Linked DNA regions of Homo sapiens: regions 2, 3 and 4 are each reported to be linked to region 1. The links are microRNA targets in miRTarBase. Many come from high-throughput screens and were not tested one by one. Region 1 holds a microRNA gene; each other region holds the end of a gene's coding sequence.

Region 1 (7,154 bases):
ACCAGGTTGGAGGGGATGGTTTTGGGATGAGACTGTTTCATCTCAGATCATCAGGCATTAGATTCTCATAAGCAGTGTGCAACCCAGATCTTTCACGTGGGCAGGTCACAATAGGGTTCTTGCTTCTATGAGAATCTAATGCTACCACTGAACTGACAGTAGGTGGAGGTCAGGCAGTAATGCTGGCTTGCTTGCCCACCACTCACCTCCTGCTGTGTGGCCTGGTTCCTAACAGGTCATGGACTGGTACTGGTCCACAGCCTGGGGGTTGGGGACCCCTACTTTAGGGAGAGCTTTAATATTCTATATTAGGCCAGCATCTCACACTAGGCAAAATCTTAGAATCACTGAGCCGGAGATGGCATTAAGGGCAGTGGCTTCCTTCCCTCACAGGGACACTTCTGCTTTATGAGCATGTTGCTTATCAGTGGTTGTAGACCACGTTTTCATATGCTGCATCTGCAGTACACTCTAGAATAGTGGTCTGAGCATTGGAAGAGTGCCCCTGACTTCTTACCACGTACACATGGTGTTTTGTCTCCGAGCCATTAAGCTGGGTGTGTGGGATGGTTGAGAAATGCCGAAAGCCTATGACTTCCATGAATATACCATAGCACTTATTGGGTGCTGGAAGGAAATTCCTTTTGTAGGCCACAGTCACCTAAACTCCTCAATCCTCATCCTCTGGCATTCATTCATCATATTTATATACCCATAGCTTGATGTACCAGGTTCAGTTTTTCCACGGAGATGCATACACTATGTAGTATATCTCAGAATGGAAAAATACAATAGCATGCTCAAAACAAACTTGTTCCAAGAAAAGACCCTGAAAACCTAGGAAAGAATTTGAGGGCATCCTTAGGCAACAGGTATAGTTTTAATCTTGTAGATTACTCCTGATAAGTAAAATGGGCTTTTTACACATTACTTGCTGAGGAAGAAAGGAAATTTCTGCTCTCTTTATCTCATCATTCACTGATTATTCTATTCTTTAATTCCAGGATCATGTGTGTTTTTCTTGTTTATTCTGTGTCTCAGTAGTTGAGGTGCATAACTCAAGACTTAGAGGGACTCATATCTTCAGGTGACAGATATGGTGTATTAATCAGTTTTCACACTGCTGATAAAGACATACCCAAGACTAAGCAATTTACAAAGGAAAGAGGTTTAATGGAGAACTCACAGTTCCATGTGGCTGGGGGAACCTCACAATCATGGCAGAAGGCAAGGAGGAACAAGTCACATCTTACAAGGATGGTGGCAGGCCAAGAGAGAGAGAGCTTGCACTAGAATACTCCCATTTTTAAAACCATCAGATCTTGTGAAACTTAGTCACAATCACAAGAACAGCACAGGGAAGACCCGCCCCCATGATTCAATCTTCCACCGGGTCCCTCCCACAACACATGGGAATCAGGGGAGCTACAAGATGAGATCTGGGTGGGGACACAGAGCCAAACCATATCATTCCACTCAGGCCCCTCCAAAATCTCATGTTCTCATATTTCAAAACACAATCATTCCTTCCCAACAGTCCCCCAAAGTCTTAACTCATTTCAGCATTAACTAAAAAGTCCACAATCCAAGGTCTTGTCTGAGACAAGGCAAGTCCCTTCAACCTAAGAGCCTGTAAAATCAAAAGCAGGTTAGTTACTTCCTAGATATAGTTGGGGGTACAGGCATTGGGAAGATACAGCCAATCCAAATGGAAGAAATTGGCCAAAACAAACGGGCTACAGGTCCCATGCAAGTCCAAAATCTGGTGGGGCAGTCAAATCTTAAAGCTCCAAAGTGATCTCCTTTGACTCCATTTCTCACATCCAGGTCATGCTGATGCAAAAGGTAGGTTCCCAAGGTCTTGGGCAACTCTTCCCCTGTGGCTTTGCAGGGTACAGCCTCCTTCTTGGCTGTCTTCATGGGCCAGTGTTGAGTGTCTGTGGCTTTTGTAGGCACACAGTGCAAGCTGTCAGTGGATCTACCATTCTGGGGTCTGGCGTATGGTGGCCTTCTCACAGCTCTACTAGGCAGTGCCTCAGTAGGGACTCTGTGTTGGGGCTGTGATCTCAGCTTTTCCTTCTGCACTGTCCTAGCAGAGGTTCTCCGTGAGATCCTTGCCTCTCCAGCAAACTTCTGCCTGGAGATCCAGGCATTTCTATTCATCCTCTGAAATCTAGGTGGAGGTTCCGAAACCTCAGTTCTTGACTTCTGTGAACCCACAGGCTCAACAGCTTATGGAAGCTGCCAAGGCTTGGGGCTTGTACCCTCCAAAGCCACAGCCTGAGCTATACCTTGACCCCTTTTAGCCACAGTTGGAGTGGATGGGACACAGGGCACCAAGTCCCTAGACTACACACGGCACAGGAACCCTGGGCCTGGCCCTCAAAGCAACATTATCCCCCTAGGCCTCCAGGCCTGTGATGGGAGGGGCTGCCACGAAGACCTCTAACATGCCATGGAGATACTTTCCCCATTGTCTTGGGGACTAACATTTGGCTCTTCATTACTTATGCAAATTTCTACAGCTGGCTTGGATTTTCCTCAGAAAGTGGGTTTTTCTTTTCTATAGCATTGTCAGGCTGCACATTTTCCAATCTTTTATGCTCTGCCTCCCTTATAAAATGGAATGCCTTTAACTGCATGCAAGTTACCTCTTGAATGCTTTGCTGCTTAGAAATTTCTTCTGCCAGGTACCCTAAATCATCTCTCTCAAGTTCAAAGTTCCACAGATCTCTAGGGCAGGGGCAAGATGCTGCCAGTCTCTTTGCTAAAACATAAAGAGTCACCTTTGCTGCAGTTTCTAACAAGTTCCTCATCTCCATCTGAGACTACCTTAACCTGGATTTCATTGTCCATATCATTATCAGCATTTTGGGCAAAGCCATTCAACAAGTCAAGTCTCTAGGGAGTTCCAAACTTTCCTACATTTTCCTGTCTTCTTCTGAGCTCTCCAAAGTGTTTCATCCCGTGCCTGTTACCCAGTTCGAAAGTCGCTTCCATATTTTCAGGTATCTTTTCAGCAGTGTCCCACTCTACTGGTACCAATTTACTGTATTAGCCCATTTTCACATTGCTGATAAAGACGTACCCAAGACTGGGCAATTTACAAAGGAAAGAGGTTTAATGGAGAATTCATAGTTCCATGTGGCTGGGGAAGCCTCACAATCATGTTAGAAGGCAAGGAGGAGCATGTCACATCTTACATGGATGGCGACAGGCAAAGATAGAGAGCTTGTGCAGGAAAACTCCCATATTTAAAACCATCAGATCTCATGAGACTTAGTCACTATTATGAGAACAGCAGAGGAAAGACCTGCCCCCATGATTCAATCATCTTCCACTGGGTCCCTCCCACAGCATATGGGAATCATGGGAGCTACAAGATGAAATTTAGGTGGGGACACAGAGCCAAACCTTATCATATGAGATTGATGAGATGGAGGATTATTTACTACTTAATTAATGGATATGGAGAATGCAAACTGGTAGTTAATGCTTTGCAAGTAGCAATGTGAAAAGGAACAGGATAAGACATGCAAGGATATTTCTTCTGTGAGTAACAGAACCTAACAGAAATGTTTAATATTTCTCAGTTCTGAAAACTGTCACGTGAAAGCTGCAACATGGGAGTGGACAGCACTCAAAGCAGGAAACATAAGGAAAGATAGTGGATTGGATTCTGCAGAAGTCCTTTGTCCAAATTCCAATGGCCACCCACAACTTGTAAATATTGAATGGCTGTTTTAAAGGTGAATGGGTGGGTATTAAGGCAAGGCTGCCATCCTCAGACATGCTGTGTGTGGTACCCTACTGCAGACAGTGGCAATCATGTATAATTAAAAATGATTGGTACGTCTGTGGGTAGAGTACTGCATGACACATGCAACATACATGATGACACTGTGTGTGTGTTGGAGGCATTTAGTTGCATGCAGAGGGATGCTTTCCTTACAGTGCAGGTATTTTACCCTCACAAACCCTCCACTTCCATGCTGGACTACCTCAGAAAACTCTCTCAGGTGCCTGACCACCAGACACGTGATCTAGGAATTTAAGGTCCTTGCAACAAGCCTCCCATTGAGTTCTTCTGAGATTGACTTCCATTTCTATGATGTTGCCTGATTGAACCAAGGTTTATCTTGCCATTTTACAGTTTCTTTCTGCCTTAAGAGTATTATTCATTTTGCAGAAACTATTTCCTTCTCCAACATCCAAATCTATTAACGGTTAGCTTCCTTTCTAATTTTCAAGTCTTCTTAAGCCTTCCAAAATTCCCTCCTGCTTCTTAAACACTTAACTTTCTGAAAATCAAAATATTTTCTGTCTCAGATATACAAAGTCCTCTTTCTTCATGTGCTAATAAAGTACATATTCGTTCTTTTGTAAATATATTTTAATCTATTATAAGGAACAGGATAAGACATGCAAGGATATTTCTTCTGTGAGTAACAGGACCTAGCAGAAATGTTTAATATTTCTCAGTTCTGAAAACTGTCATGTGAAAGCTGCAACATGGGAGTGGACAGCACTCAAAGCAGGAAACATAAGGAAAGATAGTGGATTGGATTCTACAGAAGTCCTTTGTCCAAATTCCAATGGTCACTCACAGGTTGTAAATATTGAATGGTTGTTTCAAAGGTGAATGGGTGGGTATTAAGGCAAGGCTGCCATCCTCAGACATGCTGTGTGTGGTACCCTACTGCAGACGTGGCAATCATGTATAATTAAAAATGATTGGTACGTCTGTGGGTAGAGTACTGCATGACACGTGCAACATACATGATGACACTGTGTGTGTGTTGGAGGCATTTAGTTGCATGCAGAGGGATGCTTTCCCTATAGTGCAGGTATTTTACCCTCACAAACCCTCCACTTCCATGCTGGACTACCTCAAAAAACTCTCTTAGGTGCCTAATCAGACACATGGTCTAGGAATTTAAGGTCCTTGCAACAAGCCTCCCATTGAGTTTTTCTGAGATTGATTTCCATTTCTATGATGCTGCCTGATTGAATCAAGGTTTATTGTGCCATTATACAGTTTCTTTACGCCTTAAGAGTATTATTCATTTTGCAGAAACTGTTTCCTGCTCCAACATCCAAATCTATTAATGGTTAGCTTCCTTTCTCATTTTCAAGTCTTCTTAAGCCTTCCAAAATTCTCTCCTGCTTCTTAAACACTTAACTTTTCTGAAAATCAAAATATTTTCTATCTCAGATATACAAAGTCCTCTTTCTTCATGTGCTAATAAAGTACATATTCGTTCTTTTGTAAATACATTTTAATCTATTATAAGGAACAGGATAAGACATGCAAGGATATTTCTTCTGTGAGTAACAGAACCTAACAGAAATGTTTAATATTTCTCAGTTCTGAAAACTGTCATGTGAAAGATGCAACGTGGGAGTGGACAGGACTCAAAGCGGGAAATATAAGGAAAGATAGTGGATTGAATTCTGCAGAAGTCCTTCGTCCAAATTCCAATGGCCACGCACAGCTTGTAAATATTGAATGGTTGTTTTAAAGGTGAATGGGTGGGTATTAAGGCAAGGCTGCCATCCTCAGACATGCTGTGTGTGGTACCCTACTGCAGACAGTGGCAATCATGTATAATTAAAAATGATTGGTACGTCTGTGGGTAGAGTACTGCATGACACGTGCAACATACATGATGACACTGTGTGTGTGTTGGAGGCATTTAGTTGCATGCAGAGGGATGCTTTCCTTACAGTGCAGGTATTTTACCCTCACAAACCCTCCACTTCCATGCTGGACTACCTCAGAAAACTCTCTCAGGTGCCTGACCACCAGACACGTGATCTAGGAATTTAAGGTCCTTGCAACAAGCCTCCCATTGAGTTCTTCTGAGATTGATTTCCATTTCTATGATGTTGCCTGATTGAACCAAGGTTTATCTTGCCATTTTACAGTTTCTTTCTGCCTTAAGAGTATTATTCTTTTTGCAGAAACTATTGCCTACTCCAACATCCAAATCTGTTAACTGTTAGCTTCCTTTCTCATTTTCAAGTCTTCTTAAGCTTTCCAAAATTCCCTCCTGCTTCTTAAACACTTAACCTTCTGAAAATCAAAATATATTCTATCTCAGATATAAAATGTCCTCTTTCTTCATGTGCTAATAAAGTACATATTCGTTCTTTTGTAAATATATTTTAATCTATTATTAGTAAGTCATATATCAGGAATTGTGAATAATGCTGAGAATTTTTTATTGTTTGATTTTTTTGCATTTACTTAAAAACATTTTTTATCTCTAGGTTTTCATTTACTTCCTTTATGTTGTTTCTTTCTCATTCAGTGATGAGAGAGGGTGTATGGAAGCAGAAAATGGGTAAAGGAGAGAGAATGAGAGTCAGAATTAGAGCAAGAATAATCTGTTTTTTTTTTTTTTTTAATCAAGTAGGGTAGAAGTCACAGGTGGACATCTAGGTTTTATTCCAGTTATTCATGGCTAAAAATAAAGCTACTTTGTATATTTGCATACAGATGTATATATGAACACAAGTTTCATTTTCCTTGTGTAAACTGCTACTAGTAGGATTTGAAGGTCACATGGCAAGTGTAAGTTTACATTTAAAATTAATTAAAAAATAATTTCCAGAATGGTTTTACCATTTTGTGCTGCATTAAGCAATGTATTAGTGATCCAATTACCCAACTTCTTATCAGCATTTTGTATTGAAAAGCCTTTGTTTTGTTTTTATTAGCAATTTTAATATGTGTATAGTTCCCTTGTCAGTTGTGGTTTTAATTTGCATCACCTTACTGACGGAAAATGTTGAGCACCTGTACATGTACTTACTTACCATTCATGTATCTTCCTTGGTGAAGTGCCTTTGGGATTTTTCTCACCTTTACCGAGTTGTTCACTTATCTTTGAGGTTTACTATATACATATAGATAGAGATATATAGGTATACTGCATACAATTTCTTGGCCAGAATTATGATTTACATATATTATCTCTCAATCTGTTTTGTTTTTTTCATTTTCAACAGTATTTTGTGCAGAGCAAATGTTTTCAATTTTGATAAAGTACGACTTAACAGTTTTTCAATGTATGCATTATGCTTTTAATGCTGTATCTAACAACTTTTAGACTTAGATGTGAGATTCATGGTTAACTGTGTTTTTCTTT
Region 2 (7,154 bases), not on the chromosome of region 1:
CACCCAGCTAATTTTTGTATTTTTTGTAGAGACGGTTTCACCATGTTGCTCAGGCTGGTCTCAAAAACTCCTGAGCTGAAGCAATCCATCCACCTGTGTCAGGCTCACCAAGTGCTGGGATTGCAGGCGTCAGCCACTGCGCCCGGCCATGGTTGGTTTTTTTGACCCCTCATTGGGTAATGATCAGGTAACAAGCGGCTTTGAGGGAGCAGCAAGGTCTGTCCGATGGTGGGATTTGGGGGCTGGGCAGGCAGTGGCTTGTGAAGTAGAGCTTACTGAATGAGGTGGGGGTTTTCTGGGAGCTAATTGGACCTGGAGTTTTGGCCTCTACCTGCCCATATGGGAAAAGGCTTGCCTGGGTCAGGAGGTGATAGGAACACTTGATTCTCTAGGACCAAGTGACCTATGCTTGCCATGATCGCTTTCTGCTGTGCAAGCAGTAACAGGCCAGGTCTTGTGCGAGTGGGCTGGGGGATTGTGCTGCTGCCATATGCTAAAGCGGGGAGAAGGCGGCCAGGCACAGTGGCTCACGCCTGTAATCCAAGCACTTTGGGAGGCCAAGGCAGGTGGATCACAAGGTCAGGAGTTCGAGACCAGCCTGGCCAAGATGGTGAAACTCCATCTCTACTAAAAATACAAAAATTAGCTGGGCACGGTGGCAGGCGCCTGTAGTCCCAGCTACTCGGGAGGCTGTGGCAGGAAAATTGCTCGAACCTGGGAGGCAGAGCTTGCAGTGAGCTGAGATCACGCCACTGTCATCCAGCCTGGGTGACAGAGACTCCGTCTCAAAAAAAAAAAAAAAAAAAAACGGAGAAAGCTGCTTCTCCTCGGACAGGGCCTGCGGAGCAGGCAGAAAGCTGAGGGTAGTGAGTACAAAGAAAGGGAATAGTAGCTAACTCACTGAAGTTGGGATTGCTCATGCAGAGACAGCTGAGATTTCCAATAATTATCACTTTCCTTTTTTAATCAAAAAGTATCATTATCTGGAATCCCTTTTACTTTCTGTATTCTCTGTTTTTCCACACTGCTAAAAACACTTTTCCTTCTGCCTGCATTAACCACAAGTAATCAGTCTGGTGGCTGGGGCTGGGGAGGCAGCAAATGGCCATTTCTGTAATATCCCTAGAGCAGTCACATGGGCAGGGTGTGCCTAACCAGAGAATGGAGTTGTTCAGCTTGCATTCCTACCTGGAAATAAAGTGCTCTCCTTATTCTCCTCCTGCAGGTCGGTGAGCTGGTAAAGGTTACGAAGATTAATGTGAGTGGTCAGTGGGAAGGGGAGTGTAATGGCAAACGAGGTCACTTCCCATTCACACATGTCCGTCTGCTGGATCAACAGAATCCCGATGAGGACTTCAGCTGAGTATAGTTCAACAGTTTTGCTGACAGATGGGAACAATCTTTTTTTTTTTTTTCCAACTGCCATCTATACAATTTTCTTACAGATGTCAAAAGCAGTCTAGTTTATATAAGCATTCTGTTACCTGTGATATTTTTTAGACTGAACTGCTCCATTCCTAGTCTTAATTACCATATTCAGGGTACGAACTGGAGGGCTTGTGTGTTAGCTTCTGAATTGGCAATTGGAGGCGGTAGTGGTCGTGCCTGTGTGTATCAGAAGGGATAGGTATCTTGCCTCCTTTCTCTCAGGCAGTGCAAATCACCCTGTGGAAAACCGATGGACAGGAAGGAGTGTTACACACTGCTTACCCTGATTTATTCAGTGGTTTTGTTTTCATTCTGGAACCATACTATCAAATGGCGACAGACTGTTCCGTTCCACCCCCGTGAAGTAATCATGCACCGTGTGAATAGTATCAAGCAGGATTGCTTTCATTGTATGGAGCATGACCAGCGTGTGACTCATTCTGACATTTCAGATCCTAAGAATTCTAAGAACACTACTAGAAGCATTTGTTCCCTCCTAGTCAATGCTTCATACTTTTTCTTGGGATTCTTTTAGCCCTTGACATTCTTGTCCCCCAAACCTGTAAGTAGGTGAATTCCTAAGATAAGTGTGTATTTTCATTCCAGGTGAAAAGCAGGATGTACCGAGCACTTTATTCAGTGCATAGCTTTAAGCCAGTGTTGGATTCACTAAGTGGACAGCCAGTCTCCCAGCTCTCTGCCTTCCCCAAAAGGGTCGTAGTAGGTCACCCTTCTACAGCAGCTAACTAGAGTCCTAACTAATGGGATCCAGCAGGGCCATTTCTCCAGAGGGCCAGTATCCTATTAGGAGACTCTTGGAATTCTTAGGTTCTACTCAAGAGTGGAAGGACCAATCACCTCTGATATTCTGTGGAAGGTTTTGGGGTCAAATTCTGCCCTCTGCATTCTGTGCAACTTGTATAAAAGTCAAGTTAGTATTACATGAATTTGGGGTAGGGTTAGTGCTTTGAAAAAATGTTGAACCGGCTGGGCGCGGTGGCTCACGTCTGTAATCCCAGCACTTTGGGAGGCCGAGGCGGGTGGATCATGAGGTCAGGAGTTCGAGACCAGCCTGGCCAACATAGTGAAACCCCATCTCTGCTAAAGATATAAAAAATTAGCCCGGCGTGGTGGTGCACGCCTGTAATCCCAGCTACTCGGGAGGCTGAGGCAGGAGAATTGCTTCAACCTGGGAGGTGGAGGCTGCAGTGAGCCGAGATCGCACCACTGCGTTCCAGCCTGAGCGACAGGGCAAGACTCAGTCTCAAAAAAAAAAAAAAGGAAAAAAAAAAGAAAAAAAAATGTTGAACCAATTGTGAATTACTTATGTATTATTCATTTCTCATGGGGAGAGTAATGCTGTTGAAGAACATTACATTGTAAACTGCCTTCATTTTTGGCTCTTTGTTTATGTTCAGGTTTAGTTTACAAACCCATTTAAGTATGGAATGATTTATATGGGGTCAGGTGCTCCACAAAATAGACCTATGAGACCAAAAATGACCTAGGCTATTTAGACGACAGCATGAAACTTCCACGTTAGTTCTCAGTCTATAAAGGCACTTACCGGTCTCTGGTGTGGTATGACCAATAGAAACACCTTATAGTTTGCTTTGGACCTCATTTTGGAAAAATAATCTGCCTTTCTAATTGTTCTGCATAGGTTAAAATGATAAATTTACATTCTTTGAACCTATACCAGATTGTGGTGTCCGAGTGACCGGCACACTGTCTGACACACAGTCAGTGTGCACGTATTTGTCTGAGTGAATGAGGAGACCTGAGAAACCGGTGACGTGGCACAGGGAAGCCAGCTGGCCCAGGATTCCGTACATGGCCGCAAGCAGACTAACGCGTTGACGCTAATTTAATGTATTTTACCTCACACTAAGGTCATGCTTGATAAAGACGTTAAACTCAACTTGTAAAATGGTAGCCCAGTGCTATGCACAGAGTGGGTGCTCATTAGTGTTGAATGAACACATTTGTAATACTACATGTAATTCCATCTGACTGCTTTGTTAAATTTTCAGTTAGAACGTAGATACTGTAAAGTCCACACACACATTAAATCTTGTTTTCCTGAAAGTATGGCATCAAAAATACTTGTAGAAAAACCTTGTCACAACTGATTTGAATGTTCCTATTTTCTTTTCCTTTGACTTTGATATTGGCTTGTAATGTCTCTTTTCATCATATGTAATATCAGTGGAACAGGCAGCGCTACTCAAGTCCTAAGGATTCCTCAGTGATCAGTGATCCAGGGCCGTTCATGAACCACTGGGCTGGATTTGACTGTTGAGTGTGGCAGTTAATGCCCCTCAAGAAATCAAAGGATGTCTTATAAGTGTCTTCCAAAAAAAAGCAAATGCTGAAATCCTATTGGCAAAGTAAACTGAAATTGGCTGCTATATTTTATATAATCATTTCTGCAAATCCCATTTTTTGAATACTAATATTTGACATGGTTAATTCTTATTAATTTGTTGGAATTGTTTATTGTTAATAATGCAAATAGATAATTTTTAATTATCCACAAGTAACATTTCACTGTTAATGGTTTGAAATAGGTGATAAGCAAACCAATTTGAAATAAAATATAAACATGTGCCATTGTATTATAACACTATACACTTTCTTGACAGTTAAATTTAAAAAAAAATTTTTTTTGGTAGCATGTATTGTATATGTTTATAGTATATGTAGTAAATAAAAATATGGCCAAATGTTTGGCTTGGTGATCTTTTGCAAAAAAGTAATCTTTGAATATTTTTCACAAAAGAACTAAATCTTTTTTTTTTTTTGAGACAGAGTTTCGCTCTTGTGACCTAAGCTGGGGTGCAGTGATGCGATCTCGGCTCACTGCAACTTCCGCCTCCCACGTTCAAGCAATTCTCCTACCTCTGCCTCCCGAGTAGCTGGGGTTACAGGCATGCACCACCACGCCCAGCTAATTTACTGTATTTTTAGTAGAAATGGGGTTTCACCATGTTAGCCAGGCTGGTCTCAAATTCCTGACCTCGGGTGATCCGCCTGCCTCCGCCTCCTAAAGTGCTGGGATTACAGGCTTCAGCCACCACCGCACCCAGCGAGAGGTAAATCTTTATGCTTAGGGGATAGGAGGTATGTGCCTTCAGCAGCCTGCAGTCATATAATTAGATAAACAATTATACAAGCTCAGTGGGTGCTTATTAAAGATGGGATTAGGCCGGGTGTGGTGGCTCATGCCTGTAATCCCAGCACCTTGGGAGGCAGAGGCGAGCGGATCAGAAGGTCAGGAGTTCGAGACCAGCCTGGCCAACATAGTGAAACTCCGTCTCTACTAAAAATACTAAAATCTGGCTGGGCATGATGGCTCACGCCTGTAATCCCAGCACTTTAGGAGGCTGAGGTGGGTGGATCACAAAGTCAGGAGATCGAGACCATCCTGGCTAACATGGTGAAACCCGGTCTCCACTAAAAATACGAAAAATTAGCCGGGCGTGGTGGCACGCGCCTGTAGTCCCAGCTGCACGGGAGGCTGAGGCAGGAGAATCGCTTGAACCCGGGAGGCAGAGCTTGCAGTGATCCAAGATGGCACCACCGTACTCCAGCCTGGGCAACAGAGCGAGACTCTGTCTCAATTAATCAATCAATAAAATACAAAAATTAGCCAGGCGTTGTGGCGTGCACCTATAGTCCCAGCTACTCGGGAGGCTGAGGCAGATGAATTACTTGAACCTGTGAAGTGGAGATTGTAGTTAGCCGAGATCACGCCACTGCACTCCAGCCTGGGTGACAGAGCAAGACTCCATCTCAGGGAAAAAAAAAAAAAAGATGGGATTAATCAATGGTGATATATATAGACACAGATTTTTTTTTAATTATTTATTTATTTATTTTTGTTGAGATGGAGTTTCGCTCTTGTTGCCCAGGCTGGAGTGTAGTGCTGCGTTCTTGGCTCACTGCAACCTCCACCTCCTGGGTTCAAGCAATTCTCCTGCCTCAGCCTCCCGAGTAGCTGGGATTACAGGCATGCGCCACCATGCCCGGCTAATTTTGAATTTTTAGTAGAAACGGGATTTCTCCATGTTGGTCAGGCTGGTCTGGAACTCCCAACCTCAGGTGATCCGCCTGCCTCAGCCTCCCAAAGTGCTAGGATTACAGGGATGAGCCACCGTATCCGGCCTTTTTTTTTTTTTTTTTTTTTGGCGGGGCGCAGGGTGGGGGGCGGGGACGGAGTTTCACTCTTGTTGTGCAGGCTGGAGTATAGTGGCGCTATCTCAGCTCGTTGTAACCTCTGTCTCCTGTGTTCAAGCGATTCTCCTGCCTCAGCCTCCCGAGTAGCTGGGATTACAGGCACGTGCCACCATACCTGGCTAATTTTTGTATTTTTAGTAGAGATGGGGTTTCACCATTTTGGCCAGGCTGGTCTCAAACCTCCTGACCGCAGGTGATCCACTTTGGCCCCCCAAAGTACTGGGATTACAGGCGTGAGCCACCGCGCCTGGCCTCGTGATTTTTTTTTTTTTCAAGACAAAATTTTCCTCTTGTGCCCCAGGCTGGAGGGCAGTGGCGTGATCTCAGCTTACTCCAACCTTGCCTCCCGGGTATAAGCGATTCTCCTGCCTCAGCCTCCCGAATAGCTGGGATTACAGGTGCACGCCACCAGGCCCTGCTAATTTTTGTATTTTTAGTAGAGATGGTGTTTCACCATGTTGGCTAGGCTGGTCTTGAACTCTTGACCTCAGGTGATCCACCCGCCTCGGCCTCCCAGTGTGCTGGAATTACAGGCGTGAGCCACTGCGCCCGGCCTCTGGCCTGGTGATATTTTTAAAGGTCTCCATGAGTATGAGTCATAAAATACTGATTTGAGGGGACCATAAGAATCATATAAAGGCCTGAAAGCAGGCCAGGTACAGTGGCTTATGCCTGTAATCCTCGCACTTGGGAGGCCTAGGTGGTGGAATCATTTGAGATCAGGAGTTTGAAACCAGCCTGGCCCACGTGGTGAAACACTGTCTCTACTAAAAATACAAAAAAAAATTAGCTGGGTGTGGTGGTGTGCGCCTGTAATCCCAGCCACTTAGGCCGCTGAGGCAGAAGAGTTGCTTGAACCCAAGAGGCTGACGGTGCAGTGAGATTGTGCCACTTCACTCCAGCCTGAGCGACAGGGTAAGACCCTGTCTGAAACAAAACCCAAAACCAAAAAAAACCCTGTTGAATGGCGTGTTCTTTTATATAGTCTACAGTATTCATACCAGCTGTCGTATTTTATGACCTGGACTTCCAGGTTAAATTCTGTTCCTCTTACAGGTATGAAAAGATGAGAGGGGGCCGGTATAGAAGAAAATGTGAAAATAACCATTAACCCTGCTAAGTTTGACAGGGAGAGGCGGAGAAAGTGGCGTGCTGTTGCCACCCATGTTCTGAAGACTGTGAAATGGGAGATAAGGTAGAGGCAAAAAAGAACCTTTAGCCATCTAGAAGTGAAGCTCAAAAACAGAGCAGGCCGGGCGCGGTGGCTCACGCCTCATCCCAGAACTGTGGGAGCCCGAGGCGGGTGGATTATGAGGTCAGGAGATCGAGACCATCCTGGCTAACACGGTGAAACCCCATCTCTACTAAAAATACAAAAAACTAGCCAGGTGTAGTGGCGGACGCCTGAGTCCCAGCTACTCCGGAGGCCGAGGCAGAGTGGCTTGAACCTGGGAGACGGAGTTTGCAGTGAGCCGAGACCACGCCAC
Region 3 (7,154 bases), not on the chromosome of region 1:
GGCCAGATGACTAAACCCTATATAGCATCCTGAGCTATATAAGGATTAGGGGCTTGGGGCTTCTGGGGCAGGTAGGGACTAGTAATGGGATGGTGAGGGGAGGAAATGCATGGCGAATAAAGGTCGTCTTGTTATGCAGATATAAGTCTCTCAGGTAATAAAAGTTGTCTCTTCCTGGTACAGATACTTGTACTAATGTAGATTTCCTTCATGACATACATTTCTTTTGCAAAGGGCAGCTTTTCAGAGCTACACCTGTTGTGTCTGCAGTTTCTCAGAATAACCAGCTCAAAATATTCCAAAGAAGTATAATTTGGGGTGATATATATCTAGTCTCCTACAGTCATATTTTGGGGGTGGTGTGTCCTGAGCCCCAACATTTCCTTCTCCTGTGATGGTTTGTGTCTGAGACAGGGTCTCTTGCTCCCATGCTAGAGTGCAATGGCGTGATCATGGCTCACTCCAGCCTTGACCTCTTGGGCTCAAGTGATCCTCCCATTTCAGCCTCTCAAAGTGCTGAGATTACAGGCGTAAGCCATTGCACCTGGCCTCCTGTGATGGTTTTAAAGACGTCTTTAATCCCATAGTGTCAGTCCATTTCTGCACAGCCTCTGGGCTGCCCAGCTGGGTGCCTTGTTCTCTAATTCACTGTCCTCGTGACAGAGGCAAGGTCTTGGGCAAACATTCAGGCAGAGGCTGAATCTTCCTTTACCGCTGAAAGCTTGTTCCAGACCTGCCTTCAAGTTTTCACCTTCTCCTATTCATTAAGTTCACTCGGTCTTGTATTCCTTCCCACTGCTGCTGACGGTAGCAGTTGGGGATTTGGAGGGGGACCCAAAAGACAGAAATAACTGGCATACTACCACAGATAGAAGAGTTGTTTGTTCCCTTACTACCTGAATTCCAACCAGAAGAACTTGTGATGAGTTAGCGATGTGCAAAGCCTTTCGATGTCAGGGACGTGCTGTCTAGCCATAAAACAATTAGCAAGGAAAGCATAAACATAATTTCAAAACTCTTATCTAGGAACAATCTATATATATCCAACAACTATTGGAATAGTACAATTCTGCCTTCGAACTTTGTCCATCATTTTTATGTGTTCCAAGTAATATGGTTTTGCATTAAATAACCTGCGTGGGGAAGACAGTTGCAGCATGCTGTCAAAACACGACTTCCCATCCTGCTCCCTTCCCCACCGACCTCGTCACGATTCATGGTCGCTGCCTCTTTTCTCAACCACGGTGGCCACACATGATGAAAGTTGTGATCGCTGCTGATTTTGGGGAAAGAGGGTTCTGTGTCATCAAACATCTTTAATAAAGAGTTACTATTTTGGGGGCCGGGTGCTGTGGCTGTGCGCCTGTAATCTCAGCACTTTGTGAGGCCGAGGCAGGGAGACTGTTTGAGGCCAGGAGTTTGAGACCAACCTGGGCAACATAGCGAGCGCCTGTCTTTACGAAAAGAATTTAAAAATATTATCCAGGCATGATGGTGTGCACCTATAGTCCCAGCTACTCTTGGGAGGCTGGGGCAGGAGGACTGCTTGAGTCCAGGAGTTCAAGGCTGCAGTGAGCTACGATCGTGCCACTGGACTCCAGTCTGGGTGACAGATGGAGACTCTAACATAGGAAGTTACCATTTTTTGTAATCTTGTTTCTGTCTGCCCAGCATCCACAACTTGGGGGGAACTGTCCCTTTCTGTGGGACACTGGTGGGCTACCAACCAAAAGACCTCACTTCTCTGGCCACACAGGAGGGCTCAGGATGTCAGGTCAGCCAAGAGGCCATTGTCTCCCAGGATTTGCTACCTGAGTGAAGCACAGGGTAGGCTGACGGTGTTCAACTACTGAGACCCTCACCCCAAGGCTATTCCAGCTTCTGTCCTTCTCAAAACATGGTGGAAGCCACAGAGTGTACATTTCCAAAATATTTCCTTCTTTCCCTTAACATTGGGCAGTATAGTTCTGTTGCTTGCAACCCAGCCCTGGTATGCTACATATACTACACACAGACCCTTCACTTTCAAAGAATTATTCTTTAATAAAATACTCAGGACCCTCCTGACCAGGTGAAATAGATGCTCCAGGCTCCTGATGACCCAAGGCAGCAATGCTGTCACCTCAGTGCACTCTCCCTGTCTCATCTATACCCTCTGTAGAGTGCTGACACACGGGTGGACTGTGGAACAAGGGGATGGCGGCCCAGAGCACCCAGCACAGACGCGGGGAGCCAGCCTGGGTCCTCAGTAGCAGGTGGCATGCCCAGTTCCAGGAAGCAGCCTCATGCGCTCCGTAGGTTTGAAGTCTCCATAGCCCAGCCTGGGTCCTCACTACCTCTGTCCTGTTGTTTGCAGACATTGGGCCTGCAAAGCAGCCCAGCGGGGCCCTGCAGGTGAATATCAACTACAAAAGCCGCCCTTCTTCTTTCTCTCCAAAACCCTCCTACCCAGTCCACCCCTAGTCAAAAATGAGGAAAAGAGCCGAGCCTGAGGCTGGGGATGGTGGCTCATGCCTGTAATCCCAGCACCTTGGGAGGCTGAGGTGGGCGGATCACTTGAGGTCAGGAGTTTGAGACTAGCCTGGCCAACGTGGCAAAACCCTGTCTCTACTAAAAATAAAAAAAATTAGATGGGCGTGGTGAGACACACCCTGTAATCCCAGCTATTCGGGGGGCTGAGGTGGGAGAATTGCTTGAACCTAGGAGGTGGAGGTTGCAGTGAGCCGAGATCGCACCACTGCACTCCAGCCTGGGTGACAGAGCGAGACTGTCTCAACTAAAAAAAAAAAAAAAGCCAAGCCTGGGAGGCTGGAAGGGCAGCAGGTTTCCTGCCCAGCTTTGGGGCCATGGACTCACACCTTGAGAAAACCAAGAGAGGCCTAACAAGCTGTACCCATCCCCTCTCCCACTCCTGGCTGCAGCCACTCCTTACCTGTGGACCCCTGCCCAGCTGTGACCCAGCAGAGAGGTGCCACAAACCTGGGCACACTGAGCCCTCCCCATGCCGCCCAGCCAAGTTTTGAGTGGATGATGTTTCCAGTCTTACTCAAGAATTCAGATGTCAGCCCAGCCCCATCCCAAGAGGCTCAGCCTCCTGCTGTGGGATCTGTATCCGGCTCAAGCCCTCCCTGCTGGAAGAGCTGCTTGGGCCCAGGGAGGGCTCTCCTGAGCCACCCACACTGGGGACTGTGCCTTTCATTCCCGCCAACGATACAGGTAGGGGAGGGGGTGAGGAGCCAGTGACAGCTGCGCTCGAGGCTAAATGCTAGGCCACCCTCGGCCTTAAATCTCTGTCCTCTCAACACAGTTATTGACAACACCACCAAGCATTGATGAGGATGCGGAGCAACCGGAACTTGCGCGGAGGTTGGTGGTGGGAAAGTAAAATGACACAAACACTCAGGAAGCAGGCCTGGGTGTTATTTCTTTTTTAATTGTCTATATAACAAAATCCACTGTTGTCACTGTTTTCCAGCATACAGTTCAGTGGCGTTAAGGGCATTCAGGACAGCTCTCATGACAGACTCACACCCACATGCACACCTGGTGCCCCAGCCTGCTTTGTCCACTGTCTCCATTTCCCCAGGGCTGCTTTTACTTTTTATTGTATTATTTTTGAGGCAGGGTCTCACCTGGTTGCCCAGGCTGGAGTGCAGTGGCATGATCATAGCTCACTGCAGCCTCAACCTCCCAGGCTCAAGTGATCCTCCCACCTCAGCCTCCTGAGTAGCTGAAACCATAGGCGCCATCACCATGCCCAGGGCTGCTTTTAAATAATGGCAAAGCCAGCAAGGCTCACTCGCGTGCCTGGGTCATGTTCTACAGCTGCTTGACCAGGAATCTTCCAATGCCGTATGAAACCTCACCAGGACCAAGAAAGAGAAGGGTTCCCTGCTCAGACCAGACACTTGCAGCATGGGGAAGGAGGAGCCCCTCCCAGCAGACCCAGTTCTCCTCTGTGCAGTCCGGCCTCATTTCCCACCCAAGCTCTGACCAAACCCCCTCCTGCTGCTCTGAGTGCCTGCTGTGCTCCTGGGGGCCCTCTCCACCCTTCTGTAGCTCCTGAAACCTTGTCCACTCTGCAAGGGCCGGGGCGTGCCAGTTCCTCCCAGAAGCACCCCAATGTTTCTGTCCTTTCCTGGAATCTCACAAGCACCCAGGTGCCTCTCTGCCTTGCCTGCCCCGCCCTCCTTGGCATCCTGGACTCGTGGCTTCTCTGCCCATTTCCTATGGCACCCAGCAGGAGGCTGGGCAGAAGATAGTGTCTGTGGGACACCTGCCCTTGCCCTGGTCACAGTGCCATCCAGGAGTCCCCATACTTGCAAAGTATGTTTGCACTGTGTGAAAAACTTAAAGCAGAAACATAAGAACAAAAGTGGACACTTCTCAAAAGAATAAAATGTTTGCATAAAAGGCAGAAAGACAGGGATGTCAACAGTGGTTCTCTAGGTCACGATGGCGGGAGCAGCATTCCTGCTGACAAGCACTCCTGCCCCGCGCAGCCACGCTGGGCTGCCGCCGCCTGTCAGCCTGTCTACAGGAGGCTGCAGAGCGGCCGTAAATGCCTTTGAAATAGCATCACAGTTATTTGTTAGGTCATCTCCTAGGGAGATGATACACAGTTTTCAATCCCAGTGAGTCTTTCTACCGCTTGTAAAATAAAATTAAATTACAATGATTCAACTGTTGAACAAGCTTATAGAGTCATAAAAGAACTATGATTTTCTATCTCACCCTTCCGTCTGGCAATCAAAGATCACACGTAGAACTTCTACACATGACCAAGGACCAGTACTGGGGCCTCCTTCCCACCTGAAACAAGGCAGGACTTCACTGCGAGGGGCTCTGAAAAGGAGATGCTGCAGGGTGCCACCCCTGAGTCCCACAGTTAGGGTCCTTTGTAGCCCAATGTCCCCAAGTCCCTCCAGCATGCCTGGGACTGAATGGTCCTGAGCGGCTGGGGTAATTTTCCTGAGGAGGTGGCACGTCATCTAACACACATGGGACAGAACCATGGCCCCCTGGTATGCTTCTTGGTGGTGGCAGTGGGGCAGGGACTCTATCTTAGCTCAAAGCCAGGGCTCTCATTACATGGGTGGGGAGCTGTGTGGCTCCAGAATCAATTACCTTCCCAGACCAGGCGCGGTGGCTCATACCTATAATCCCAACACTTTGGGAGGCCTAGGCAGGAGGATTGCTTGAAGCTAGACGTTTGAGACCAGCTTGGGCAACATAGCAAGACCCCATCTCTACCAAAAAAAAAATTTTTTTTTTTTGAGACAAAGTCTCGCTCTTGTTGCCCAGGCTGCCCAGGCTGGGGTATAATGGCGTGATCTTGGTTCACTGCAACCTCCGCCTTCCAGGTTCAAGCAATTCTCCTGCCTCAGCCTCCCAAGTAGCTGGGATTACAGGCACCCACCACCATGCCCAGCTAATTTTTGTATTTTTAGTAGAGATGGGGTTTCACCATGTTGGCCAGGCTGGTCTCGAACTCCTGGCCTCGGGTGATCCGCCTGCCTCGACCTCCCAAAGTGCTGGGATTACAGGAGTGAGCCACCATGGCTGGCCTACAAAAATTTTTTTTTTACAAAATTAGCCAGGCATGTTAGTGTATACCTGTCATCTCACCTACTCAGGAGGCTGGGATGGGAGGATCGCTTGAGCCTGGAGGTCAAGGCTGTGGTGATTGCACCACTGCATTCCAGCCTGGGTAACAGAGTGAGACCCTGTCTCAAAACAAACAAACAAAAGTAACAACTAAACAAAAGAGAATAAAGTACTTGCTCAGGAGGATAGAGAAGGGCTAGGGGAGAGGGCAGAAAAGGTTTGTACAACTTAGAGGGCATGAACAGCAGCAGCACCTTGTTTTTTTTGACCAAACAAGAAAAGGCCCCCAGAGCTCACGCACAGCTATCATCAGGGCCGGTGCCATGGCCTGGCTCCTCGGGTGACACTTCCCCATCTGACACATGGCACGAGGGCTCAGCTGCCCGCCCAACCCTTCCAGCACTTCCCAGCTGCAGATCTAGGAGCTGGAAGGCAGGCCTGCTCAGCAGGCCACCTACTCACCAGAGCAGTGGGTGTCATAGAACTCATCTCAGTGGCAATGTGGCCAGAGAACATGCCCTGGCTAAAACAGATTTCAGCAGCACGTTATTAAAATAAAGCACAATGGGCCAGGCGCAGTGGCTCACACGTGTCATTCCCGCACTTTGGGAGGCCAAGGCAGGAGGACAGATTGAGGCCAGGAGTTCAAGACCAGCCTGAGCAACATAGCAAGACCTCATCTCAACAAAAAAGAAAAAAATTAGCTGGGCCTGACAGTGCACACCTGAGGTCCCAGCTACTCAGGAGGCTGAAGCAGAAGGATCTCAAACATGTTTGAGGCTGCCGTGAGCTATGATTGCACCACTGTACTCCAGCATGGGCAACAGAGTGAGACCCTAGCTCTAAAAAAAAAAAAAAATTAAAAAATAAAGCAAAATGTTATCAATGGATTAAACTATGAGACCATTTATTTCTTCCCTGCCCTGCAGCGTTCAGTGGGCTTACGCACCTCCGGCTGCCACCATGGGCTGCCCTGCAGGGAAGGCCTGTGTGAGGCAGACCTTTCAGGCCAGAGGAGGCTACACCACGGGCTCCCGCAGATTCTAGCAGGTGGGGGCATGAGACTTCAGGTCATAGGAGCAGACATCGCAGCCGTCCAGCAGGTCTGCCTGAGAGACGCCATTGAGGCTGGGGGCAACCAGAGCTCTGGGGTTGTCCTGCACGCCTGTCCTCGTGAGTGTGTCCTGGAGAAGTTCTCGGATTCTTCGGTTTTCCCTGAAGGTAGATTCCCAAATAACTTCAAGTTCACCTTCCATTTCTCTGAGGGAAATAAGTTTAAAATGGCACAATTTTAAAAATAATATAGAGCCCATATGAATCCCAAAGTAGCAAGAACTCAAAACAGAAGAACGCTATCAGCAGGGAACAGAGCCCTCGGTGCCTGGGTTCTGAAGCAAGCGCTCAGTGTGGAATGAAGCAGCTGGTGCCCTGGGAATGGGGAGCAGCAGGACAGCCCAGGCTGGGGCTCAGTGTGGAATGAAGCGGCCAGTGCCCTGGGAATGGGGAGCAGCAGGACGGCACAGGCATTTCTCTTCCCTCTATGTTCT
Region 4 (7,000 bases), not on the chromosome of region 1:
TGAGGGGACGGAGGCTGAGGACGGTGGGAGCGTCGCGGTGGGGTGAGGGCAGGACCCTGTGGAGGTTCCAGGGCTCCTGGCCAGGGGGCCCGGGCCTCACGGGCTCTTTGTGCCTCTCCAGCTCGGTAGCGCGGCGGGCAAGGCAGGCGCCATGACCCTGATTGAAGGGGTGGGTGATGAGGTGACCGTCCTTTTCTCGGTGCTTGCCTGCCTTCTGGTGCTGGCCCTTGCCTGGGTCTCAACGCACACCGCTGAGGGCGGGGACCCACTGCCCCAGCCGTCAGGGACCCCAACGCCATCCCAGCCCAGCGCAGCCATGGCAGCTACCGACAGCATGAGAGGGGAGGCCCCAGGGGCAGAGACCCCCAGCCTGAGACACAGAGGTCAAGCTGCACAGCCAGAGCCCAGCACGGGGTTCACAGCAACACCGCCAGCCCCGGACTCCCCGCAGGAGCCCCTCGTGCTACGGCTGAAATTCCTCAATGATTCAGAGCAGGTGGCCAGGGCCTGGCCCCACGACACCATTGGCTCCTTGAAAAGGTAAGTAGGTCAAGAGGCAGGAGCAATGCTAAAGACAGGGGTTGGGAGAGTGGTCGCAGAAGGCCCCCAGAGACACCTAAGACCCAGCCCTCCTTTATACTGGAGGCGCTGAGCGCCCCAGATCACAACTGTACTTGTTCCCCTGGCAGACGGCCCCTCCCAGGCCAGGGCCGGTGTGTTGTGGAGGGCAGGGGGAGGGTGGGAGTGCTGTTCCGGGGCCAGGGACTAGGATTGCCTGAGGCCTGCTCTCTTACCCAGGTCCCTCTCTCCTCAGGACCCAGTTTCCCGGCCGGGAACAGCAGGTGCGACTCATCTACCAAGGGCAGCTGCTAGGCGACGACACCCAGACCCTGGGCAGCCTTCACCTCCCTCCCAACTGCGTTCTCCACTGCCACGTGTCCACGAGAGTCGGTCCCCCAAATCCCCCCTGCCCGCCGGGGTCCGAGCCCGGCCCCTCCGGGCTGGAAATCGGCAGCCTGCTGCTGCCCCTGCTGCTCCTGCTGTTGCTGCTGCTCTGGTACTGCCAGATCCAGTACCGGCCCTTCTTTCCCCTGACCGCCACTCTGGGCCTGGCCGGCTTCACCCTGCTCCTCAGTCTCCTGGCCTTTGCCATGTACCGCCCGTAGTGCCTCCGCGGGCGCTTGGCAGCGTCGCCGGCCCCTCCGGACCTTGCTCCCCGCGCCGCGGCGGGAGCTGCTGCCTGCCCAGGCCCGCCTCTCCGGCCTGCCTCTTCCCGCCGCCCTGGAGCCCAGCCCTGCGCCGCAGAGGACTCCCGGGACTGGCGGAGGCCCCGCCCTGCGACCGCCGGGGCTCGGGGCCACCTCCCGGGGCTGCTGACCCTCAGCCCGCACTGGGAGTGGGCTCCTCGGGGTCGGGCATCTGCTGTCGCTGCCTCGGCCCCGGGCAGAGCCGGGCCGCCCCGGGGGCCCGTCTTAGTGTTCTGCCGGAGGACCCAGCCGCCTCCAATCCCTGACAGCTCCTTGGGCTGAGTTGGGGACGCCAGGTCGGTGGGAGGCTGGTGAAGGGGAGCGGGGAGGGGCAGAGGAGTTCCCCGGAACCCGTGCAGATTAAAGTAACTGTGAAGTTTTCACTCTTGCAGTGTGTCTGAGTGTGTGCGGGCTGGCGGGCGGGGAGTCCTCGCCCCTTGGGAGAGAAGGGCACGGACTGCGCCTGGGGTCTGGCCCTCCGCCTTCCCTTCTCCCCAGCGTTCTGCTCTGGCTTTGGCGCCGGCCTCCGTGGCCCCGCCCTCGGCGCCGGGCGCGCACTTCCCGCGGGCGGGGCTCGCGGCTCCCTGGCTCGCAGTGCCTGCCGGGAGCCACGTCTCCGAAGACCGATAGCTGCTTCGGGATTGGCGTCCGGGCGGCTATCTAGGGGCTGCTGGGAAGATGGCGGACTCGGTGGCTAGCCGATGAGGAGGCCGCGGGGGGAACCCGGCCCCCGGGCCCCGAGACCGACTGAGGGAGCGACCTGCGCAGGGCCCGGGGAGTCATGTAGGGGTGGCGCCTGCGGGGAGGGCTGCGGGAGGGCAGCGGGAGCTGGTGTTAGCGGCAGCGGCCACGGTCTCCTGGCGTCCCTGGGCCGGGGTGGGTGTTGGGGCCCCCGACTTCGCCGACTCCGCGCCATCGCAAAGCGGTGCACTCGGGCTCCACGCGCGCCCTGCGAGGTGGGCGCTGCGTTTTCATTTCACGGGTGAGGAGACTTAGAGAGACGAAGCCACTTGTCCAAGGTCACGCCGCTGGTGAGTGGGAGCGCCCAGCATGGAACCCAGCACCGTCCAGCCGCGGAGCCCGCGTTCCACCCTCTGTGCCGCCGCCGCCTCCTGTGGGAGAGGGAGGTGGTCGGGAGAGTGCACGCCGGTGCCGCCTGGGCTCCAGACTGGGCGCGACCACTAACCCGGTTAATGACCTCGGGCTTAACTTAACCCCTTCGCTGCTCTGGGCCTGCGTTTCTCCACCGGTGAAATGAGGTAATGCCAGCCCTGCCTACTCTTCATGGGCGTGTAAGGAGCATCAGAGATGGTGCATGTGGAATTGCTTTGCAAGTAGTGCTGCGCTGAGCGCACTGAGGATTATGATTGCTGTTTCAAAGGCGTGGAAGGAGGCAGAGGGGCGGGGTGGGGAAGAGGCCCAGAGCAGTCACAAAGGCTTGCTCTGACCACAGGCCCCCTAAATGAGGAGTGAGGTAAGCAGTAGGTAGCAGGTCTTTCTCCCCTTTGGAGAAAACCTCACCCCCTTTTTTGGGCTGCCCCTCAGGGTCTCCATCACCCAACTCCATGCTTCGAGTCCTGCTCTCTGCTCAGACCTCCCCTGCTCGGCTGTCTGGCCTGCTGCTGATCCCTCCAGTACAGCCCTGCTGTTTGGGGCCCAGCAAATGGGGGGACCGGCCTGTTGGAGGAGGCCCCAGTGCAGGTCCTGTGCAAGGACTGCAGCGGCTTCTGGAACAGGCGAAGAGCCCTGGGGAGCTGCTGCGCTGGCTGGGCCAGAACCCCAGCAAGGTGCGCGCCCACCACTACTCGGTGGCGCTTCGTCGTCTGGGCCAGCTCTTGGGGTCTCGGCCACGGCCCCCTCCTGTGGAGCAGGTCACACTGCAGGACTTGAGTCAGCTCATCATCCGAAACTGCCCCTCCTTTGACATTCACACCATCCACGTGTGTCTGCACCTTGCAGTCTTACTTGGTGAGGAGGGGCTTGAGGTGGGCGCCTGGGGGGCTAGGTGTTAATGAAGAATAGGGAGAACAGTAGAGGACCACGGACAGAGACCCAGCCTCTCAGGCGTTTGCCCAGGAACGCTTGCTCCTGCTCCCGTCCTATGTCTGCGGCAGACATCATGAGTCGAACGCACTCCTTCCGGCCTCGCTAGGGTGCCACCCCAGATTCCTGCTAATAGAGTGCCCTAGGAAGCCACCATAATTTGTCACAATTGGTATGAGATGAAAGCCTATTTGCCATCTTTGTATGTACTCCCTACAAACCGTTTCGATACCTCATAGCCACATGATACTTTACATGTCTCTAGTGTTTGCACTTAAACTCTAGCACACCTTCCCGCTCAGGAAACGGGAGAGGAGAAAGGTGGAGAATTCACCAAGTAACCCCATGATAAGAACAGCAGCACAGCTCTGTTACCAGGCTGCCTTTTACCTCTCCCCCTCAGGCTTTCCATCTGATGGTCCCCTGGTGTGTGCCCTGGAACAGGAGCGAAGGCTCCGCCTCCCTCCGAAGCCACCTCCCCCTTTGCAGCCCCTTCTCCGAGGTGGGCAAGGGTTGGAAGCTGCTCTAAGCTGCCCCCGTTTTCTGCGGTATCCACGGCAGCATCTGATCAGCAGCCTGGCAGGTGCTGGAGGGGGTTAAAATCAGATGGGGGTGGGGAGGGCTGACAGGAGGAGGAAGGTGGGCTCAGTTGGCTGGGCTGAGGTGGAATTGAGCCAGCCGGAGGTCCGGCTGAGGCCCAGCGTGACAGGCTGCTCTTCACAGAGGCAAGGCCAGAGGAACTGACTCCCCACGTGATGGTGCTCCTGGCCCAGCACCTGGCCCGGCACCGGTTGCGGGAGCCCCAGCTTCTGGAAGCCATTGCCCACTTCCTGGTGGTTCAGGAAACGCAACTCAGCAGCAAGGTGGGCTTGCCACCCACCCTCCAGTGCATCTCTGTCATTCTCAGGGACCTTGTCAGGCCCAGCGCCTCGTGCAGCTCGGCTATCCTTTTCCTGAAGCAGACACACCCTCTCTGTCCCCTGGGACCTGCATCTTTTCTACACCCTTTCTGTGGCTTGCCCACCTCCTGTCAGCAGCATGCATTCCTGGAAATCTGCAGTTTCCCAAAGCACTCTTAGCAGCATCCTAGCTCCACCCATCCCTCTCGAAGTCTTCAGGGCCAGACCCCACAGCGATGTCCCCTCTGCCTGTCTGGTGATTAGTCACGTGCAGCTCGTGACTGCTTTGCTGTTGAACTGTGAGGCCGGAGGGACTGTCCTGTCTTTACAGCAGTGTTGTAAACCTGAGGGCTAAGCCTCTCTAAGGCTTAGCTTGTAAAAGATGACTGCAGAAATACTTGACACTGGGTAATGAACTGCTCTTCCTCCACAGGTGGTACAGAAGTTGGTCCTGCCCTTTGGGCGACTGAACTACCTGCCCCTGGAACAGCAGTTTATGCCCTGCCTTGAGAGGATCCTGGCTCGGGAAGCAGGGGTGGCACCCCTGGCTACAGTCAACATCTTGATGTCACTGTGCCAACTGCGGTGCCTGCCCTTCAGAGCCCTGCACTTTGTTTTTTCCCCTGGCTTCATCAACTACATCAGTGGTACGCAGCCAGGATGGCTGGCTGGGCCCCTGAGGGCTGGAGAGGCAGGGGAGCAGGGTGGCCTGCAGCCCAGAGCCCCAGTCCCCGCCTCCCCACAGGCACCCCTCATGCTCTGATTGTGCGTCGCTACCTCTCCCTGCTGGACACGGCCGTGGAGCTGGAGCTCCCAGGATACCGGGGTCCCCGCCTTCCCCGAAGGCAGCAAGTGCCCATCTTTCCCCAGCCTCTCATCACCGACCGTGCCCGCTGCAAGTACAGGTGGATGGGGCAGCCTGGGGCAAGGGGAGGGGCCAGCCTGGGACCAGCAGAGTGGAAAAGCCAGAGGGACCATGAAGCGCCAAAGCTAAGGAGCTCTCGGCCACCATAAAACTGGGCCCTGAAGCAGCAGAGGGCTTTGCCCAGGGTGGTGGCACTAGACTGGGACAGATTAGGATGAGGTGCCGGGCCCTTCCTGCTACTGGTGTCCTTTCTCCTCAGTCACAAGGACATAGTAGCTGAGGGGTTGCGCCAGCTGCTGGGGGAGGAGAAATACCGCCAGGACCTGACTGTGCCTCCAGGCTACTGCACAGGTGAGCAAGGGGCAGGCGGCAGGCCCGGGGAGACGGAGCCCTGGCTAAGGCCGCCGGCCCTGCTCCCCTCCAGACTTCCTGCTGTGCGCCAGCAGCTCTGGTGCTGTGCTTCCCGTGAGGACCCAGGACCCCTTCCTGCCATACCCACCAAGGTCCTGCCCACAGGGCCAGGCTGCCTCTAGCGCCACTACTCGAGACCCTGCCCAGAGGTAAAGGAGGCAGGGTGGGGGAGCCCTGGCCACCTTGCCCGCCATGCCCTGAGCCACGTCCCTCCCCCTGCAGGGTGGTGCTGGTGTTGCGGGAACGCTGGCATTTCTGCCGGGACGGCCGGGTGCTGCTGGGCTCGAGGGCCCTGAGGGAGCGGCACCTAGGCCTGATGGGCTACCAGCTCCTGCCGGTGAGTGGCCCTGGCCTGGCCCGTGGCGCATCCTCACTCCCAGCCTGCGGGTAACCTGCCGCCCTCTCCTCTCCCCACAGCTACCCTTCGAGGAACTGGAGTCCCAGAGAGGCCTGCCCCAGCTCAAGAGCTACCTGAGGCAGAAGCTCCAGGCCCTGGGCCTGCGCTGGGGGCCTGAAGGGGGCTGAGGGGTTGATGTGGGGTTCAGGATGGCCCCCCCATGGGGGGTGGATGATTTGCACTTTGGTTCCCTGTGTTTTGATTTCTCATTAAAGTTCCTTTCCTTCCCCGTTGTGAATCTCAGTTTTGGGACGGGGAGCAGAGCTGAGTCCCCCGCCTCTTCCATTCATGCCCCGCCCCCCATACAAAGACAAAAGGCCACAGATAGGTGGGGGCCAAAGCACTTTACTGCAGGGGCAGTGGGGGAGGAGAAGACTTTAAATTATTCACTTAAATAAAAAGGAGGGAGGGGCATGGGAGGGGGAACCCCATCCCACCAGCCTGTCCCCTCGTCCATCGGTCCCTCGGCTGTCCCTCGGTGGCGGCTACACAGGCATGGGCATCTCATTGTACTCGTCCACACCCTCCCGCTCATCAAACACCGGCTCTGCCTCGTTAGCATCCAGCTGTGTGTGGGGAGGTGGCGGTCAAGAAGGGAAGTGGGGGGGCCTTTCCAGATCCACAGGGAGGCAAGAGGAACCGGGGGAGGCAGACGGGAGGGCTTACACATTTCATCTCTCGGTCGGTGAAGATACGGGTGAGCACCACCATGCGGAGCGGCACTGTGAGGATGAGGATGAAGGGGAAGGCCAGGGAGGCAGCTGTGGACATGACGGCCCAGAGCAGGGCCAGGCAGAGCAGCTGCAGGGCCGTGAACAGGTGCATACGGAGGGTCCGGACCTGGGGGGCGGAGACAGGTGAGCCCAGCTTCCTCCCTAGCCTGCTGCTGGGAAGAGCCTCTCTCTTCTTCGGAGGCGGGGATGGAAGAACATTCCTAGGTGCCAGAGCTGGGTTGGTACAGAGAGGAGGTGGGGGCTGGCTGAACTGGGCAGATGGGAGGGGGCAGCTGGAGAGTGACCCAAGTAGACCAGGATGGCCAGAGGCACACCCCTTCCGGTGGGGAGCTGGGGGGCTCACCTTCTTGACGTAAGTGACATCTGGGTGGTGTTTGGGCGGCATGAGCAGCAGATGCAGCCGC

What was found. Region 1 holds the annotated microRNA hsa-miR-509-3-5p (UACUGCAGACGUGGCAAUCAUG, at 4,698-4,719, shown strand). A microRNA usually pairs through its seed, bases 2 to 8, with sites in the 3' UTR of a target mRNA and lowers its output. Matches are read on the target gene's strand: a 7mer-m8 pairs with bases 2 to 8, a 7mer-A1 pairs with bases 2 to 7 and ends in A, and an 8mer does both.
Region 2: miRTarBase lists CRK as a target of hsa-miR-509-3-5p. Seed matches in the 3' UTR shown: 7mer-m8 at 2,632-2,638.
Region 3: miRTarBase lists CEP89 as a target of hsa-miR-509-3-5p. Seed matches in the 3' UTR shown: 7mer-m8 at 3,674-3,680.
Region 4: the mRNA of SLC4A2 is a reported target of hsa-miR-509-3-5p. Seed matches in the 3' UTR shown: 8mer at 6,209-6,216.

The regions. Positions count from the first base shown.
Region 1 is chrX:147,257,261-147,264,414 of GRCh38, reverse strand. MIR509-3 (microRNA 509-3) reads left to right here and starts at 4,689; the gene lies at 4,689-4,763. It overlaps MIR509-2 (microRNA 509-2), which reads left to right and starts at 5,565; the gene lies at 5,565-5,655. It overlaps MIR509-1 (microRNA 509-1), which reads left to right and starts at 3,790; the gene lies at 3,790-3,883. All of the region lies in intron 2 of LOC105373347 (periphilin-1), which reads right to left.
Region 2 is chr17:1,417,722-1,424,875 of GRCh38, reverse strand. CRK (CRK proto-oncogene, adaptor protein) reads left to right here. Exons shown (of 3, transcript NM_016823.4): 3 at 1,226-4,183. The coding sequence ends at 1,363. It overlaps CRK-AS1 (CRK antisense RNA 1), which reads right to left and starts at 290. Exons shown (of 1, transcript NR_198965.1): 1 at 211-290.
Region 3 is chr19:32,872,512-32,879,665 of GRCh38, forward strand. CEP89 (centrosomal protein 89) reads right to left here. Exons shown (of 19, transcript NM_032816.5): 19 at 3,414-6,867. The coding sequence ends at 6,651. Among named protein-coding and RNA genes, the nearest start is that of SLC7A9, 6.3 kb to the left of the region's middle. RefSeq lists an enhancer at 2,645-3,530.
Region 4 is chr7:151,075,715-151,082,714 of GRCh38, reverse strand. It overlaps SLC4A2 (solute carrier family 4 member 2), which reads right to left. Exons shown (of 23, transcript NM_003040.4): 21 at 6,940-7,000; 22 at 6,529-6,702; 23 at 6,192-6,428. The coding sequence ends at 6,348. It overlaps FASTK (Fas activated serine/threonine kinase), which reads left to right and starts at 1,906. Exons shown (of 10, transcript NM_006712.5): 1 at 1,906-2,030; 2 at 2,793-3,215; 3 at 3,694-3,873; 4 at 4,014-4,153; 5 at 4,623-4,836; 6 at 4,935-5,094; 7 at 5,314-5,405; 8 at 5,479-5,614; 9 at 5,688-5,802; 10 at 5,883-6,091. The coding sequence starts at 1,949. The coding sequence ends at 5,990. It overlaps TMUB1 (transmembrane and ubiquitin like domain containing 1), which reads left to right. Exons shown (of 3, transcript NM_001136044.2): 2 at 122-540; 3 at 815-1,630. The coding sequence starts at 152. The coding sequence ends at 1,166. RefSeq lists enhancers at 599-893, 1,611-2,586, 2,587-3,563, 4,540-5,515, 5,516-6,491 and 1 more and silencers at 1,492-2,171, 5,634-5,713.